2 separate regions of the Homo sapiens genome follow, and region 1 is linked to region 2. The links come from fine-mapping of genetic effects on plasma protein levels. A gene starts in region 2. The other region holds a variant in brackets. All regions are shown on one strand. Distances are from middle to middle. Region 1 has its middle 17 kb from the start of LINC00489. Region 2 holds the start of VSTM2L (V-set and transmembrane domain containing 2 like).

What was found. A credible set is the group of variants that fine-mapping cannot tell apart. PIP is the chance, under the fine-mapping model, that this variant and not a neighbour inherited with it causes the effect. Protein levels are from antibody-based Olink assays in UK Biobank. Linkage for the fine-mapping came from a reference panel and not from the study's own genotypes, which makes the PIPs less certain.
Region 1: its variant is the best candidate, but not a certain one, in a credible set for the plasma level of the VSTM2L protein (UK Biobank, PIP 0.53).

Annotation. Positions count from the first base shown.
Region 1 is chr20:37,635,647-37,645,188 of GRCh38, reverse strand. No RefSeq gene overlaps it. Among named protein-coding and RNA genes, the nearest start is that of LINC00489, 17 kb to the right of the region's middle. The variant C/A (reference allele first, on the strand shown) is at 3,695.
Region 2 is chr20:37,898,243-37,907,784 of GRCh38, reverse strand. VSTM2L (V-set and transmembrane domain containing 2 like) reads right to left here and starts at 4,658. Exons shown (of 4, transcript NM_080607.3): 1 at 4,314-4,658. The coding sequence starts at 4,434. It overlaps LOC124904896 (a long non-coding RNA gene), which reads left to right. Exons shown (of 3, transcript XR_007067576.1): 2 at 926-1,166; 3 at 8,268-9,504. RefSeq lists an enhancer at 4,395-5,358.

The sequences.
Region 1 (9,542 bases), 260 kb after region 2:
GATCAATTAATTAATGACTCCGTATTTTTCAGAACAAACTCATCAAAGTGAATTCCACTTACTACCCTCCAAGACAAGATTTATACAAAATGTGGTCACTTTAAAATGAAACAAGAGATGAGCTATTCCCATTTCTTCAAAGCCCTATTAATATTTCATTAGCTACCAGAAGTAGTTGATATTTGTATCTTTGTGTGTCTCTGTGTATAAGTATGTGTATAGACCGTATCTGCCCACCTAGCATTTCTAAAATATGTTCTTTGGACCAGTGAGTGCTGCAGCATAGGAATAGGGTACTATTGGGGGGAAAAGAGGCAGATTTCATGGCCAGATATGTTTGGAAAGCCCTGGATTTAAGATGTATCCATTGCAGGACTTCTCAGAGCCTTTAAGGGTGGCATTTATTGGGCATTTACTATATTCCAGGCAGTGTGCTAAGCACTTTACATTCATTACCTCATTAGCTTATATTCCTCTAGAATGTAAGCTTCTTGAGGACTGACACCATGTCTGTCTTGTTCACCAGCATATCCCTGGAGACTGACACACTGTATCTACTCAATTAATGAATAAATTAACAAATGAATAAATGGCCCTGTAAAGTACATATTGTTACTATTCCCATTTGATAGAGGAGGGAACTGAGTCTGACTACAGAGCCTGGGCTTTTTAACTCTGTTGCTGCTCGTCTTCACTGTAGTAACATGCCTGGCAGATCTGCGGGACAGAGTTCTTGCCTACAGCATTTCCAAGCCTGATTTGCCTAAAAACCTTTTTCTGAAGAAGTATCTTGCAGAATAGGATCATGAGGAACATACCCTAGGAAATGATCCTCTGGGCTCTGCAAGCTGGGTGAGCAGGCCTCCTTGTCTCTGATTTGTCTCCCTAGATGACAGTGCATACAGACTGCAGGGCAGGAGGGAGGGAGAAGCAGGGTATTTTTCTGCTCCCTCTACTCAGGGCAAGGTCTCCACTAGCTGCATCTCCTCCCTGGTTTCTAGTCTTTGGAAAGGCAGCCTCTCCCTCTGTGGTTCCAACTCCTTCTAGGTAGCCCCAACTCCTGGGCTCTTTCTTGTAACGTTGCTTCCTCTTTTGGCCAGGTACGGAGGCTCACGCCTGTGAGCACTTTGGGAGGCCGAGGTAGGAGGATTGCTTGAGCCCAGGAGTTTGAGACCAGCCTGGGCATATGGAGAAACCCCATCTCTACAAAAAATACAAAAAACTAGCCGGGCGTGGTGGTGCATGCCTGTAGTCCCAGCTGTTCAGGAGGCTGAGGTGAGAGGATCGCTTGAACCTGGAGGTGGAGGCAGCAGTGAACTGTGATCACGCCACTGCACTCCAGCCTGGGTGACATAAGGAGACCTGTCTTGAAAAAAAATCACTCCTGTCTTTGTTCCTCCAGTCTTGGGGTTCTTTCTCTCACAGCATCCCATTTACTTGTGCAGCACCCACTAGTCCAAAGAGGATGCCTTCGTCAAATGGTGAATATGGTCTGTAGCATCTTTTCTGCTATTGATAATCTCCAGCCACTGCACTTTCAACTCTTCCAAACCACTGTCACGATTTTGCTAGATTCATGCTCTCCACTGAGCTGCCTGATGCAACACTGACTAATACAACCACCTAAAACAGTAATAGCAATAATTTCACAAACATTCACTCAGCATCATGAATGTGTTAGCTCATTTGATCCTTGTAACAATCCCATGAGAGGTATTCTAATTGCCATCACCGTACTATGGATGAGTAAACTGAGTCCTTGGGAGGTGAAGTAACCTGTTCCAGGTCATACAGTTCATGAATGGGAAGCTGGGATGTGAGCCAAACACACTGGGTCCAGAGCACTATTCCTACCCCCAACCCCCCAGATAACAGTAATAGACAGTTCCTGGGGGTCAGGAAGATCAAACAGAGCCCTTTGTGCCTTTCAGTTCCTGGAGCACAGTAGAGTTCTAGAGGCCTTTCTCCTTGTCTGGTAGTGAGCTTTTCAGCCCTGGAGGTGTGCAAGAAGGGATTGCAGCACTTCTTCACATGGTATTTAAAGGGAACCTCCTTTCATTTGGTCCCCTTCACTAAACCAAAATGAAAAATATTAAATTTGAAAAAAAAATGGAAGCAAACCTCCTAGCAGTGGTCATCCAGGTGAACCAGATGGTGTTTAAGGCTCCCCAGGCTTCTCTTCCCAGTCCCCTGAAAGATGAAGCCACTTGTAATGTCATCAAGACAGGGTCTTTCGAGATCCTGATGAAATACCACCTCTGCTATGAAGCTGCCCCAGGGGCCCCAGCAGAAAGGAGAATTCCCTTTCTGTCACTCAGCATGGCTTTTTATCTCTGCTGTATAGAGCCAAGCTTGCATTATCAGGTTTGTGTTTGGGTCTTCTATGGCCTGCTGGACTGGAAGCTCAGGGAAGATAGAAACTGACGCCAATGCATAGACCTCCTTCTATAGCCCAATCCAGTACCTTGTATGCTATAGACACTCAATAAGTGAATAAGTGTTGGGTGAATAGATAGACAGATAGATGGAAGGATGAGAAAATTTTAAAAAGGAAGAAAGAAGGAAGGAGAGAGAGAGAAATGGGATAGGTGGATGGGGGAGGAGGGATGAGCAAATATGGATGGATGGATGGACAGATGGATGATGAAAGTATGGATCAATGGGTGGATGAAAAGATGGATAGATAGAAGAATGTATGTATGGATGTATGGATGGATGGAAGGATGGGAAATGCATATAGATGGCTAGACAATAGATTGATTGATAGATGTGAGAAGGTGATGGATAGAATGAGTGGATAGATGGATGGATGGGAAGATGGATAGATGAAAGGATGCATGGATGGATAAATGAAGGGATGCATGGATGGATGGATGGATGGATGGATGGATGGATGGATGGACTGGGTAGATAGTTAGATAAACGTATTTATAGAGACTGTGAGGTGTTGTGCAGTAGACACTCTAGAATTTCTATGTGGGGCCCACAATCTGCCTAGAAGGTGGGCTTGCCACCATATTTGCAGAACACTTTACATAAGATTGAGAAACTAGCTATTGCCCATGTGAATGAAATGAGAAAGAAGTGACAGAGATTATGGAAGCCTAAAACCCCTGCAGCTGCCACTGCAGGTGTGACCATAATCACCTAAAATAGTAAGATTCTGAAAATCTGTGGCCCTAAGAAGATTCAAAGGTTTTAAAGTTCTGTGTCTCTAAAACTTAGACTTGAAGATTCTGTGTCTTTAAGAACTCTATATCTACCAATATGAGCAACATGCTCTGTGCCGGGCATTGTTCTAAGCACTTTAGATACAAAGATTAGTTCCTATAATCCCCACGGCCACCCGTGGTCTAGACACTATTACACTATTACCACCCTCATAATGAGGCACAGAGATGCTGAGGTGTTTGCCTTAGATAACACAGCTAGTAAGTGGCAGAACTGGGATGTCAACCCAATCAGGTTAGGCGGGATCCAGAGTCCCCGCTTTTAACCACCACACAATCCTGCCTCAAGGAATGAAGGATTGTACGCATCTAAGTTTCGAAGATTCAGTGCTCAAGACTTGAAGAGTCTGCAATTCTGAGGCTCTAAGCGTCTCCACACCCAGGACTCTTCAGACGCTGAGGGAGAGAAAAGGAGAGAGAGTCTGGCTGGCTCCTACGAACACCAGCCCTGCTGATGTCAGGCA[C/A]CTGGCTGTCACTCTTCCTGTTAACCTTGGGGAGAAAAACACATTTGTGGCAGATAACAGGCATGAGGGTGTGCCGGCCCTCCACTCACTCCCGGGCCTGATGGATGGGCTACATGGGCCCCCCCGACCTGTGTGTGTACTGTTATCTGCTCAGCCAAGGGAAGCTGTTCATCATGCCGACAGCTTGGCGAGGCACACCTGCTGGGACTGCGTCAACCAGAGCCACCAGCATCCTGGGAGGAAGAAGGGGAGGTGATGGGGGGCAGTAGGGCAGGGGAGACACAGAGAAAAGGGCCAAGGGCTCAGTATCAGTACCAGAGGGTGGCACTAAATTCTGGGTACCATGGATGTGCTGTGTGACCACAGACTAGTCACTTAACCTCTCTGAGCTGTAAAATAAGATTAAGCTTTGCCAGAAACCTGGGGGTTGTACTTTCCTCCTTCTCATGCTCCACATCCAATCACCAGGTTCTGTCCATTCTACCTCCCAGTCTGTCGTGATCCTACCCATTTCTTACCAACAACTCTACCGAAACCACCTTGGTCCAGGCCACCATCATCTCTGCCTGGATGATGCTACAGCCTTCTCCCTGGGTTCCCTCCTTCCTGCCCACTATATTCCATTCTTCACATTTTACAGTTCAGAGAGGTTAAGTGACTAGCCTCTGGTCACACAGCACATTCATGGTACTGCCAGGAACGGAAGTCTGGCATCACGCCCAGAAGTCAGTGCCACGGCAGCCAGAGGATCTCTATTACAAAATGAGATCACATCACTCTCCTGCTTAAAACCCTCTAATAGCTCCCTGTCACACTTAGAAATAAGTCCAAACTCCTTGCCAGAGCCCTGCAAAACCTGGCCTCTCCCGCCCTGTCCATCCTTATGTCACACCTGCCAGCCCCCTTGCGTACCAAGTTTCAACCATGCCACCCATCCCTTTTCCACCTCTTAGCCTTTGCACATGCTGTTCCCTCGGATGCGAACACTCTTCCCCAGCCCTTTGCGTGGCTGGCCAGCTCCCTCTCATCTGCAGCTCTCAGCTCAATTGCCACCCCCTCAGAAAGGTCTTGCCAGCCTGAAGTACTACTCCAGTTCCCAATCTCACTCTGTCACGGCACCCAGTGTATTCCCTTTCTGGGACTGATTGCAACCTGAAATTGTGTTGTTTGTTTCTTTGTGTGTTTATTGTCTGTCTCTCCCACTAGAATGGAAGCTCCAAACGTTATGGGTTGTTGTCTTACTCACTACTGTGTCCCTGAGTGCTTCCTCAGTACAAAACCACACATTCTTTCCACCCCAGGGCCTTTGTGCCAGCTGTCCCTTTGCCTGGAACTCTCTTCTCTGCTTATTTAACGCCTACTCACCCTTCAGATCTATGGCAGGGCATATTTTGCAAAGATAGGCACAACAGCATCTTTTATCTTACGTGTTCTTTATAAAATATGACCTTGAGACTTGTCCTGGGAAGAAGTGGGGCCCGTGTTCCCTTCCCTTGATTTGGGGCAGGCTATGACTTGTTTGTGGCCAATAGGATGCCATGTAAGTGACACTGGGACACTTCTGGAAGGAGGTCAAGGACATTGGCTCTGGAGCCCTAAGCTACATTTAAGCAGCATGACTGTCCTGAGGATGCCATGCTATGAGGAAGCCCAAGCCGGCCTCTGCAGAAAGACCACATGGAGAATCCCTGAGATCACCTACAGAGAAGGAAAGAGATGTCCAGCATCTTCCAGCTGCTCCAGCTCCAGCCATCATCTAACTGAAACCTCATGAGAGACCCTGAGTCAGAGCTGCACAGCAGAGCCCTTCTGAATCCCTGATCCACAGAAACCACAAGCATCAACAAAAATTGTAGTTTTAAGCTACTAGGTTCATTTGTTATACAGCAATAAATAATCAGAACAAGATCTCAGTTCATGTGCCACCTTCCCAGGAAGCCCTCCATAACTAGGAGCACTAGGTCAGGACCCTGTACTTCCATTTTATTTTATTTTATTTTACTTTATTTAGATACAGTGTCCTACTCTGTTTCCCAGGCTGGAGTGCAGTGTCATGATTGCAACTCGCGGCAGCCACCATTCCCCAACTTAAGCGATCCTCCCACCTCAGCCTCCTGAGTAACTGGGACTTCAGGTGTAAACCACATGGCCAGCTAATTTTTTAGTTTTTGTAAAGACGGGATCTCCCCATGTTGCCCACGATGGTCTAGCACTCCTGGGCTCGCACTCCTGGGCTCAAGTGATCCTCCCACCTTCGCCTCCCAAAGTGCTGGAATTACAGGTGTGAGCCATCATGCCTAGCCTACTTTTTCTTTATAACATATAGCACGGTTGGTAATTATGTAGTTATTTATGTGATGGCTGATTTTTGTCTCTCTCTCTCTCACTTAAATATAAGCTCTGGGAAGGGGGAGAATAATCCTTATCTTGTTCACCATTGTATCCCCAACAGTGAATAGTGCCTGGCACATAATAAGTGTTCAGCGAATACCACTGATTCAATAATTTCACTAAGTTACTACAACCACCCTGTAATGCTGGCTGTATTACCTCCATTTTTCAGACAAGGAAACTGAGTGAGATTCAGAGATGTTCTGTTCTTGCTCAAGGCCACACAGCAGAGCAGGATCCTAGCCTGTTTCTCTCTGACTTGAAAGCCAGAGCCCACCTCCTGACAGGTGGAGGGATGGGGTACTAGCCTGAGGTCCTCTAAGTGGTAGCTGAGAAGGGCCACAGGTGTCCTTTTATGTAAACTTCTGTCTTACCCTTGCAGAGAAAGAGGCCCAGAGAGGGGAAGGGACTGGCCCAAGGTCACACAGCTCATCAATGTTCAAGCTGGGACAAGACCCGGGGCCCTACATTCTTTACCCAGAGCTCCTCTCACTGCACCCTCAAACCTGCCTTCAACACCTGCCATGCACGGAGCCCAGGACTAGACTCCAGGAGGGACAGACACAAGAAAATCAATGGTCCCTTTGTGGAGAGAACTCAAATGTCTACATAGTAAAGGGGACAAGCAGAACAATTATTTATGAAAATCAACTGTGTTCCAGACAAGCCTAAAAGACACTTTTCATGACAAGCCTGTAAGATACTCTCACAAGATATCCTTTCACAAGAGGAAGCTGAGGCTCAGAGAGATTCGAGGACTAACCCAAGGTCACCAGACTTATAATTGCCAGCTCAGAATTTGAATCCAGAGTTGTCTGTCTCCAGGATGCCCTCCAGTGTGCCAGGCTGTCTCACCAGAGCTAAGGGAGCCTCGAGGCCATGGAGAATGGGCTGGGCACGGTGGCTCATGCCTGTAGTCCCAGCACCTTGCGAGGCCAAGGCGGGTGGATCACTTGAGCCTAGGAGTTGGAGACCAACCTGGGCAACACGCTGAAACCCAGCTCTACTAAAAACATAAAAATTAGCCAGGCATAGTGTTACGTGCCTGTAGTCCCAGTTACTTGGGAGGCTGAGGTGGGAGAATCACCTGAGCCTAGGAGGTAGAGGTTGCAGTGAGCTGTGATTGCATCACTGCACGCCAGCCTGAGTGATAGAGGCCCCATTTCAAAATAAAATAAAAAAATAAGGACTGGGGGCTGGACACGGTGGCTCACGCCTGTAATCCCAGCACTTTGGGAGGCCGAGACGGGCAGATCACGAGGTCAGGAGATCGAGACCATCCTGGCTGACACGGCGAAACCCCGTCTCTACTAAAAATACAAAAAATTAGCCGGGCGTGGTGATGGGCGCCTGTAGTCCCAGCTACTCGAGAGGCTGAGGCAGGAGAATAGCGTGAACTCGGGAGGCGGAGCTTGCAGTGAGCCAAGATCGCACCACTGCACTCCAGCCTGGGCAACAGAGTGACACTCTGTCTCAAAAAAATAATAAAATAAAATAAAATAAAATAAAATAAAATAAAAATAAGGATTGGGAATTAAGGAAAGCTGCATGGAGAACCCAGCACCAAGGAGCAACCTGAGTTAGTCCCTGAAAGAAGTAGTGTGGTTTCCAAAGACTGAGCTGGGGAGAGCGTGTTCCAGGCAGAGGCAGGGCGTGTGGGCAAAAGTCTAGAGGTGGACAGGGCCAGCAAGTCTGGTGGCCCAAGCTGGAGGCATGCGAGTTGAGGCTTGGAGGGGCGGACTGTGCTGTTCCTGCCCCTCACTGCCTCTGCAGCCCCCAGTCACCTTCCCTGGCAGCCCACCCATCCCCCATCCACCAGAGCAACGAGTGGAAAATGAATGAGTCTGTTTATGAAGCCCATAATGTTGCCAGCAACACAAGGCACTCAGCGGAGCCGCTCGGCGCCTCTAATGGGATATTATTTATGTCATTTTCCTCCTGGCGCTGGAGCCATTACCACCCGGAATGGTGCTCCGTCACCCTCCACTCCCCCAGTGATGTGCCAATGTCATGCTGAAGGATGAGCGCTGCAGTTGTCATGGGCAGCACCTCACTGCCAGCCTCTGGACCTGAGCTTCGGAGAAGTGGCAGGGCAGGGGGGTGACGGGCAGCCCCCTACACCCTGCCAATATGAGGCCACTGGGCGCACGCCCGCCAGTGGGATCTAGCTTCTCTTGGGTTGCCGTTGGTGCCAGCCACCCTGCCAGGTGCTGAGAATCCTCCCATGGCTCCTCATTACCCTGCAGACAGAGCCCCATATTTCCATCTGTCAATAAGCCCTCTGGACTTTGGCCCCTGCCCACCTTCCCAGCCTTAGCTTGGCCTCTTGCGTGTAAGTTCTGTAATCAGACAGGCCTGGTCTCGTGTATCGTCCCAGATTGACTCGATCCACCTGTCCCCTCTTGCTCAATGAAGAGCCCGGCTGCTGTCTTTGGCTCTTCTTCTAGTCCAGCTGCCTCAGTTTCCCCCGGGTGAGGACTAGCCTTCTGCAGACACCCCATCAAGCCTGTCAAGCTGCAGCAGCTGACCCCCTGGGTCCAACTCGATCTGAGGGAGGCTCTTTCCACCACTTTCACATTCAGATAAAGCACCATGCTTAGGGCAGGGGATCAGGCTTCCCTAGTGGCTTCCTGGAGGGGCTGAGTAACAGCACTCCTTGCAGCAAATCAGGAACATTGACAACCATGAACCAGGAAGGAGCCGCAGACAAATGGACTATTCCAAAAATGGGAGGTTCCACATGGCTTGCGTATCTGCCACTCCAAGTGACCCAGCACCCAGTTGCATTGGCTCAAAAAGGTATGTTTCTACGGCCAGCTCAGAAACATAGCTCTTTGTGTTTGCTTCCTATTCTTCTCTATCTGCCACCCTGTCCCCCTTATTCTTGCTGCCTAAGAATTGCACCTGCCATAAAATATGTACACTTTGCTCCAGACTTTGTGTTTTAGGAAACCCAGGCTAAGCCATCTGGTTCAATCCCAACTTCATCACTTATTTGCTGAAAGATCTGAGACCAGTTAATGAACCTCTCTGAGCCTCAGTGTCCTCAGCTATAAAATGGAGGTGATCATCATCCTCACCTCACAAGGTTGTTGGAAGTACTCACTAAAATCAGGAATGCTTCCATTTCCTCCACTTCGACACAACTTCCCTTGCATCAAACACTGGCATGTACTATTTTCTTGGTCAAGAACACTCTCAATAACAATAACCTTGTTCATCCTCATGTTTACCTTACACACCTCCTTCTGGGGAACAGTCCCTCTCCCCAGGATGGGTCAGGGCACCTCTGCTAGACCCCACAATGCCCTCTGCTTCTGCCTTGATTTCACTGAACATTGTACTGTATTTACTCATGTATCTGCCTCTGTCGTTAGACTGAAAACTCCATGAGGGCAGGGCTGTGTGTTTTGCTCACTGTTATACCCCTTGTACTTAGCACAATGCCTGGAATATA
Region 2 (9,542 bases):
AGTGAATCACTCAATGGACAAAGCCCCCGGCCAAGCCAGGATCTTTGTCTGCACTGGGGTATATGAATAATTGAAGGTGCTGGCCTAGGGGTGGGTGTGGGTGTGTGTGTGTGTAGGGGTGTGTGTGTGTGGCAGGGTGGGGGTGGGAGGGGAGTTGTCTGCTGCAGTGTGAGGCTTCTTGGAGCTCCTCTCAGGGACCATCCACCTGCCCCTGTCTGGACCTCTCCCTCCCCTGTGAAACCAAACCAAGCCAGTCCATAGCGTCAGACATTTCCTGTCCCTACATCTCCCACCAGGTATGGGTAAATACTTAGGCAGTGGCTTCCAAATCCCAGGCTGCATGAGAATCCTCTGGGGAACTTATTAAAATGCAGATTCCACTAGATGCGGTGGCTCATGCCTGTAATCCCAGCACTTTGGAAGGCCGAGGAGGGAGGATGGCTTGAGCCCAGGAGTTCAAGACCAGCCTAGGCAATATAATGAGCTCTCATCTCTACAAAAAATTTAAAAATTAGCTGAGGGTGGTAGCACATGCCTGTCACTCCCAGCTACTCGGAGGCTGAGGTAAAAGGATCATTTGAACCCAGGAGGCAGAGGTTGCAGTAAGCTGAGATTGTGCCACTGCACTCGAGCCTGGTCAATAGAGCAAGATCTTGTCTCAAGAGAAATTAAAAAATAATAATAAAATGTACATTCCAGGGTCCCATCAAATAACCATTCTGGCAGCGGGTTTGGGGGATCTGCATTGTAAAAAATTCCCTGGGGGACTCTGCCATGTGAGGCTTCTTGCAAGCTGTAGGGGTCCTCTGCAAGCTGTAGGGGTCTACAGAGATCTTCACAAAGACCCTGCCCTCTGGATCCCTCCCCTGGACAAGATCTGGAAAGATCCTGGGGTCCAGTCCAGCTGCCTGTTTCTAACCTACAGGTATCCTCAGCAAGATCTTGCCACCTTTCTGAGTGGCTGGTTCCTCTTGGTGGAACCCACTGCTTTACTGGTTCCCTGAGGAGCTAGAAGGGAGAAAGCTTGGGTTACGGCTACAAGAAGGAAGACGCCATGGCCAAGCCTGCCTCAAGGCTGTTCTGGAGGAGGCAGTCCCAGAGCTGCCAGATGCATCTTCATCTTAAACACAGCTTTCCAGCTCTCTGTACAGACTCAGCACCCTTGGGTAAGTCACTGGCCCTCTCTGAGCCTCAGTTTCCTCCTATCTCCAACACCAACCTTGCATGAATGGTCAGCCTGAGTGAGTTAACACTGGCAAGGGCTTGGCAGCACGGGGCACACAGTAGGCATTTCATCAATGCTTGCACCTTTTCCTCCCATCCCTGCTGTGCCCATGGGCAATGAGTTAACATTTTCTGATAAGAAAAAATCAAAATCACTCCTGTTTATTGAGCACCTACTAGGTGCAGACACGGACCATCACCACCCCACCTCCCAGTGCCTGATGCCTCCTTGAGATACATGCTCCCCATTCATTCCTCACACCTCGAAAAAGCCCTCTTCCAAGTACCTTGAGTGGAGGTGGGAGGGAGATGGGAAGCAAAACAGATGTCCTTTCTGACCCATCTGACCGCAGGCTTTCCCTGTGACAAGCTCCAGGGCAGGCAGGTGGAAGGCAGGAGCCCGGCGGCCGGGCTGGGCTCAGATGGAGTTGGAGGGGTGAGCAGCCACCAAGCACTTGGGGTCAATGTGCCCCTCCCCAGGAGCCCCTGCTTCCAGCCCCCACCCCCCACCCCCAGACACAGAGACACCTTCCCGACTGGGCCACATTTCCTGAATCAGCTGAGGACACACGGAGCCCAGGAATAATGAAATGATCAGGCCCCAATCTGCTAAACAGCAATTTCTGAGCTTTTTCAGCACACACAGCTTTTATCAAATTGGTATTCTCCTCCTGAACACAAATAGCTTATTAGACATGACCCACTTATTCGCCGCGTCTCACTATCATTAATAACAGTTTCTTTTTGTGATTAAGTGAGTGGCTCCAAACCCTTCCTGTGGTGGCGGGTGCTTGGCACGGCAGAGGGGCAGCTGTGGGGGCTCCTCGGCAGTCACTACTTGGTGACTTTGAACCTGGCAATGTCGGGGGAAGGCAGCCTGGCCCCTGCAGAGCAGCCTGGCTTCTTTGTTTCTTTAGGGACACAGGGAGACCCAGAGGGGTGGCTCACTTGCCCAGAGCCACACGGGGGTTTCAGGAGAGAAGCCAGGTTCCCCAGCAACTAGGGGTGCCTCCTTCTCATCTAGCCCCTGTCCTGGGCCTTAGCTTGACCTTCCAGGGTGCAGAGGGGAGATTACAGCTGGTTGGGCAGAGCTGTGCCCCCTCAGCTTACCTGGCACCAGGGGACAGGTAGAGACTGTCACACAAAGGGCAGACAGACCCTGCTTTTCTATGGGGGGGAGCCACCTTGGGGCCTTGGGAATAACAGACTGGCACCCAAGTCCCTGGGGTCTGGTGCTCTAGGGACAGAACGACCATAAGCCTCAGAGTCCCATTCCTCATACCCCTCGGGACTGCAAACTCAGGGAAGGCCCTCCATGGAAACCCCTCCTAGTGTAAGTTCCAACTGTGCCAAGGGACTGAGCGGAGCGAGGAGAGGAGGGGTGGAGAGGGAGGAATTCCCAGTTTCCCTAGAATGGGAGGGAATCTGACAGGGAGATGAATGTCCTGGAAAAAAGCGCTGTCTTTGCCTGACAGACCCTGGGGCCTGTCCTGGCTCAGTCACTCTCTTACTGTGTGACCTTGGGCAACTTCCTTCACCTCTCTGAGCCTTGGTTTCCCTATCTGTAAGTTGAGGATCAAAAGAACCCTTTCCTTATTTACCACCGCTCTAGCCAGGTCGGTAGAAATGAGGTGAGGGGCATGAAGGGTATGTAAATGATGCACACAGCAGTTACTACCAAACATGGTGAGGCAGAAGGGGGCGGGGAGTCATGGTTCCCAAAAAGCAGAGACCCTGAGGATGGCTTCGAAGCCCCCCTCTCCACTGGAGCAATCCCACTCATGTGTCATACCCCAGCAAAACCTTCCCTGATTATCTACCCTGCCTTACCCCCACTCACTCCCATCAGAATAAATCATCCAATTATCTGGCCTTTGTGCAAACCTCCCCACAGCCCTGGGCCCACAGTGCCCAGCACTGGGGCTGCAGCCTCCCCAACAAGGCTGTCAGCCTGTCTAGTGAAGGGCTGCATGGAAGAAAGGTCTCCTTTGGTTTCATCTATGCTCGAGCCTCCATCCCAGAGCCAGGCTCACAGGGGTCAGGGGGAGCCCCCACAGCTGCCGGGCTCATACAGTCCAACTCTGCTGCCAACTTGGGCTCCTTCGGGGCTAGCAGGAGCTTCTGACACTCAGCCAGCCAGTGCTGGGAATGCTTGTCTGCTCCCCGGCTTCCACAGCGGCTGGAGTTGAGATTTCCCACATTTCAGTCCTCTAGGGCCGAGGATGAGGATGGGGGTACCCTATGGAAGGATGGCACGGCTTCCTGCCCATCCCCAGAGGCAGACAAAAGCACCCGGCATTCCACTTCCACTCCCACTCCCATGCCTCTGGCTGCAAGCAGCAACCCCAACTACTCCGGTGGCTCTGAGGGGCTTCCACCAGGTGCCACCCGCCCAACTGGGAGGCTGCAGCCCCAGGCGACCAGTTCTCAAGAAACAAGGTCTTCTGCCCCCAAGGACCTTTCCAGTGGTATAGGGCTGGGTGTGGAGAGGAAGAGGACAAGGGCCTCTGTGCGGTTAAACCCAGAAGAGTAAAGGCAGATGGGCAGAGAGGAGTGGGTGAGCAAATTGTGTTCATGTGTGTGTATGTGTGTGCCTGTGTGTGTGTGCGCGCGCGCGCACCAGTGTGTCTGCAGGTGGGCAGGCAAGAGTTGTGGCGAAGCGTGTGCGCCAGCTGGCAGAGTGAGCCCACCGGCGCAGTGCCTGATGTGCGTGTGTAGTGGGCATAAGTGTAAAGGCTTGCAGTGAGGAGGGGGACCTGAGGTGTGTGGAGATGTGCAGGGTAGGAGTTGTGAGTGTGAGAAAGCAGCGACTGTGGCTCTGAGTGTGTCCGCGGCTGTGCATATCGGTGTGGCCATGCAGGTGTGCGTATCCGCGCGAGTGTGTGGGGAGGAGGTTCGGGGGTGCGCCCCGGGTGCCCCCTTCTCTGCAGGGCCAGGGTGCCAGGGCGGGTCCACCGCGCCGGCAGGGGGCGCCCCGGGATGCCCGCCACGACTGGCGCCGGTTCGAGCCCCGGGGCGGCCAAGTTGGAGTGGCGCGGCCCGGGTTGGGGTTTGGTGGGGAAGTCCGCGGGGGCGGCGACCGAACTCACCGTGGCCGGAGACGTGGTTGTCCCAGGGCGCGTGGCCGGCGGGCCGCGTGGCGCCGCCGAGTTGCAGGAAAAGTGCCAGGTAGTGGAGGGCGCCCAGCGCTACGGCGAGCGGGGCCCCCATCGTGCGCTCTCGGGCCGGGGGCGCCGCCGCCTCACATCTGGGCCCCGGAGACCGCAGAACCGGCGCCAGCTGTCCCCTGCCCTGAGCGGCCTGGCTGCCCGGCTCCGGCAGCTGCCCCTCGCCCGCTGTCCCCGGACCCGGCCCAGCTCCCAGCCCTCGCCCGGCTCCGGCCCAGCCCCGGCTTCGGGGAGCGAGCGCACGCCCAGCCGGCCGCCTCCGACTGCGGGACTCTTCCCTTCCGCGGAAGGCCACGCCGCGCCGCCGCCGCACCCTCCTCCCTCCTCCCGCCTCCCTCCTCCCCTCCCTCCTCCCCTCCCTCCTCCCGCTCGGAGCAGGCGGCGGAGGGATCTGCCGCTTGATTTATCATCAAAGTTTTGCCCAGGCTGGGATTTTTAAAGCGGTACCCGCAACTTTCCCCCGCCCGAGTGCGGAGGCGGGGCCGGGATGGGGCGGAGAGAGCCACCCCAGGGACGCGGTTCCCGCAAAGCACGACCCAACGGGCTTCAGCCACAGAAATGCCGTCCAGCGGGGAGAGGGAGAAAAGCCAGGGCACCCGCCGCCAGGCCAGCGCACTCAGAGGCTCCTAACTTTACCGGCAGGGCGGGGCCGGGGTCAGGGGCCAGTGGGGCTGGGGGTGAGGGCGAGGTAGGGTGGGAGCCTGGGCTGAGACCCAGGGGACCTGGTGATAGCTCTGCCGCCGACCTCGGCTCGCTGTGTGATCGCGTCCGGGTGTCTACCCCTCTCTGAACCTCGAAGTCTTCATCTGAGAAATAGGGGTAATAGCTGTCTGCGGGGGTCCTGGTGAGGATTTGCGAAATCGTGCATGCAAAGCGCTTAGCATAATGCTGCCTACGTGGTAGGAGCTCAGTAGTTATTATTGTCGGTGTTCCCCTTTCTGGGACTCAGTTTTCGAGTCTTTGTAATGGGAGAGAGACAGGCCAGTTAGTTGTTGCGGCTCCTGGCTCTTGAAGATACTGGACCTTATGTGGTGGATGGGATCGCCCCCTTCTGGACTGTAGGCTCCTTCCCTAGACCAATGAGCCTTGATGGTGTGTGTGTGCATGAGTGTGTGTGTGCGTGTGCGTGTGCGCGCGCGTATGCGTGGGTGTATGTGTGTGTGAGTGTGGCAGGGGAGGGGGATAGGGCACCATTCCCATTCCCAAGAGCAAGAATCCAACAAAGTCCTCCAGTTCCTTCCCAAGCCGTGTTACTGGGGCTGATGGGACAGACAGGAGGGCGGAACTGTGGTCCCATTTAAAAGATAAGGAAGCGCCTGAAATCAGGTAATTAGCTTCTCTGAGGTCCCACGGCGAGTCGGGCGAGGCCCCTGACTCCTGGGCGGGGTCCCTCCTGCTCTCATCCCTTGCCCTTCCCCAGGCCTCCCTGCTCACACAGCCTGGTCCTCCCGGTTTCAGCACCACGGAGGAGGACAGCGCCAGCCCCCCCCCCGCCCCCCGCCCCCCGCCCCACCCGGGCCCATCCTTTGGGCACCGTGGACAGCGTCTCAACTGGCCCTTTGATGCTAGGGTTCACACCGTGGACAGACCCTCAGACTTTCTTCCCCGTCCCCGTCGAACAGGGTCAACCCCTCCGACAGCCCACTCCCCACTCCAGAACACAGGTGGATCCCGCGTCCAGCCGTGTGTACAGCGCCCAAGTTTGAGAACAAGGTTAGAGACCAAGGAACATAGCCCCTCGCCGTCTTCCCTCTGTCTTAGCGCCCCCCTTCCAGTATTATGGGGGGGGGGTAGCACACCGGATGGGGCCCGTGGTAGCCAGCAACAATCCAGCTCCTTCCAAACTAAGGACACCTCCTCCACGATGTCCCGCACTTACAAGCACTGTGTTCTAGCACCGTCCACAGCCCCCGCGCTCCCTTCAGTACCGAGGACAGGTCCCAAGCGTCGACCGCTTCCCCCACCCCCCGAACCTTCTGGACCACATGCCTTGGAGGAAGGGGCCGTGTTTGCCTGATTCTCTCACTTCTCACTTTCTTCCCACACAGAGGTGGTGTTTAGGTTATCCTGGGCTGGCCAGGCGTCTTGGACTCTATGCACGTGTTTTCTCATTCATTAACTACCCTGAACCCCGCTCCCAGCGAAATGAACTACTGCTTCCATCATAAAGATATGGAAACTGAGAATCCTCCAGATCACATAGCAGCCACCATGTTAGCCAGACTAAAACCCAGGACTCCTTCAACCCCAGCCTGAGGCCTCACCAGGAGACTGTGGTGACAGAACTGGGACTCAAACCCGGGCTTTCTCCTCTTAAACCACAGATTGGAGGGAGCAGACACAGGCAAGGGGACAGGGAGGGAGAGGAGATTAAAGAGGAGTAAACAAGAGATTGCTCAGGCCTGCAGAGGAAGGGGGTCTGGCGGGATGGCAGCACATTGCTGCTGTGCCCCTAGCCCACCGGCTGACCTTCAGAAATCTTTTCTCTTTGAAGCCTGGAACAAGGTCAAGGTTCCTTCAAGGACAGACATCCAGGGATTGTATGCCTTTGAAAATGCTCGTGATCGGCCAGGTGTGGTGGCTCACGCCTGTAATGCCAGCACTTTGAGAGGCCGAGGTGGGCATATCACGAGGTCAGGAGTTCGAGACCAGCCTGACCAACATGGTGAAATCCCATCTCTACTAAAAATACAAAAATTAGCCAGGAGTGGTGGTGGGCACCTGTAATCCCAGCTACTCAGGAGGCTGAGGCAGGAGAATCGCTTGAACCTGGGAGGCGGAGTTTTCAGTGAGCCAAGATCACACCATTGTACTCCAGCCTGGGTGACAGAGTGAGACTTCATCTCAAAAAAAAAAGGAAAAAAGAAGAAAATGCTCATGATATAATGGTTCTGCTAAAAAAACCCTCTGATGGCCTGTTTATGTGAGAAATCCTGACTTCTCTAGTTTGCATTCAGGGTCCCAGACTCACCTCCTGCACATATCCTGTGCTCTCTTGGGCATGCCTTGGCCTCATTACATCTTCAACCTTCCCAGTGCTTCCCCTGTGCTTGTATGCCTTCCCCTCTGTCTAGCTGAGTCCCCAGTTGGGCGAGGTCCAGCCTGAGTCCCCATGGGAAGAAATGCCTGCTGCCTTCTCCCAGTCCCCAAGCCTCTGTTGGCTCATCACTGTATGCCCAGCATGGCCCTAAGAACTTTCATTATTCCCCTTAATCCTCAGAACCACCAGGCCAGGTAGGGTAGGATGGTGTGGTTAGAAGTGTGGGCTCTAGAGCCATATTCTCTGTTTTGAATCCTGCCATTTGGTAGCTGTGTAAACTTAGACAAGTTGCTTAGCCTCCCTGTGCCTCAATTTTCTCGTCTGTAAAACAAGGGTAATAATACCTCCTTCACAGCAGGGTGGTGGGGATTAAATGAGTTGTTACATGGAAAGCACTTAGAACAATGCCAGGCACATGGCAAATACATGATACATGTTGACTAGTGTTCTTGATATCTACAGATGAGGACATAGGTTCAGAAAGGTTAGGTATTTTGCCTAAAGCGACATAGCAAGGCCATGATGTGTTTGATTCCAGAGCCAATCAAACATTTCATATGTTTGATTCCAACCTACCCTCTTGGCACCTTAAGAAACTAAGACCCAGAGAAAGTAATTCACTTTCTCAGAGCCACACAGCCACTCATGACAGAACTGGATCCAGGTCCTTTGTCTCCCAACTCAGAGACCTCCCACTATACTGTACTGTCCCACTTGTATTTCCTGCAGCACCTAAACTACACTTTACAGTTTACAAATCACATTCACACCCATGATCTCCTATAATTCATACAACAACCCCTGAGGCTGCTATTATACCCTTCCTTCTTTTACAGATGGAGAAACAAAGCTCAGAAAGATGATGTAACCTGCACAAAGTTGCACAGTGAGGTAGGGCAGAGGCTGAATGTGAACGGACACATCCCAGCCCATCCTCCTCCCCTGTGTAATTGTGCCTCTTGTCTGCTTCCCAATGCAAGTGTAATCTCTGGGCACCGTGGAAGCCGAGAGCCTAGTGGAGGCAGAAGGTAAGCAAAGACTAGCCCAGGAAACAGTCTCTAGGAATTCACTAGAGTGGGTGACGCCTGTCACTCATTTCATTCTGGGAATGCTGCAGGAGATGGAAAGCCTCCCATCCCTGGAGGCAACTAACATGCCTCTAGTGGTCGTGTGGATGCCATGAGGCAAATATCACTGCTATTTCCATTATATAAATGAGGCTCAGAGGTGAGCATCACGTCAAGTATTTCAATTGGGAAAGATGATATTTTTAAACTTCCCTCTAAGCATGGGATCTTGCACTGCCCCTTACTGCTGAGCCAAGCTCCCTGGAGAGTCTCCATACCCTCCCCTTGACTCAGACAGGCCACCCTCCCTCCCCTCCTTGAGAGGTGTCACTTGAGCACTGTGGCTCTGTCAGTGGTAACAGCTGTAAGATTTGTCCTTTTAATCCAGAATCAATAACAAATTTCATTTAAAAATAAATTAAACCAGGCATTGGAAATCATTCACCACGTGGGCTGGAGCCCTATATAGCACCATCTAAATGGCTTCCTTTTGCTCATCTATCAATGCCAAGAGTGGGGGAAATACCTAGGCTGCCTGATTCATGGAGAAACTACTTAAATGTATCAGCCCCTAACAATGAGCAATGTAAGCCTGGAGTTGCACCTTTTAGCACACCAATAACATGTGGAGTGAGGCTTCATGAGAGCTTATCAGAGCCCCCATGGTCACTGGCTTTGAGAGAGCCCATTTATAAGGGGGAACAATGGCTTTAGTATGTAGCCGCCTAATTTCCAGAATGCATTACTGAGCTCTGAGGAGCAATGGAATTCTATTAAAGTCTTATCTGCCATGGGAGGGTATGAAACCGGTGCGGAACTCCAGGCTTGGCATAGACATGCCCAGAAAGCAGCAGGGCTGACCCTAGGAGGTGGGTGAACAAGCCCAGAGGGAGAGGGGGGAGCAGGAGGGGCCCCGGATGTGTGAAAATATGTGTGTTAATAAGAGCTCCGGTTTCCAGCGATTACGTTTACATCAGTGAATAAAACTTGGCAATAAAACATCGGAGCTGCGTCTCAGACAGCATTTCCTTTTACAGCCTGGTG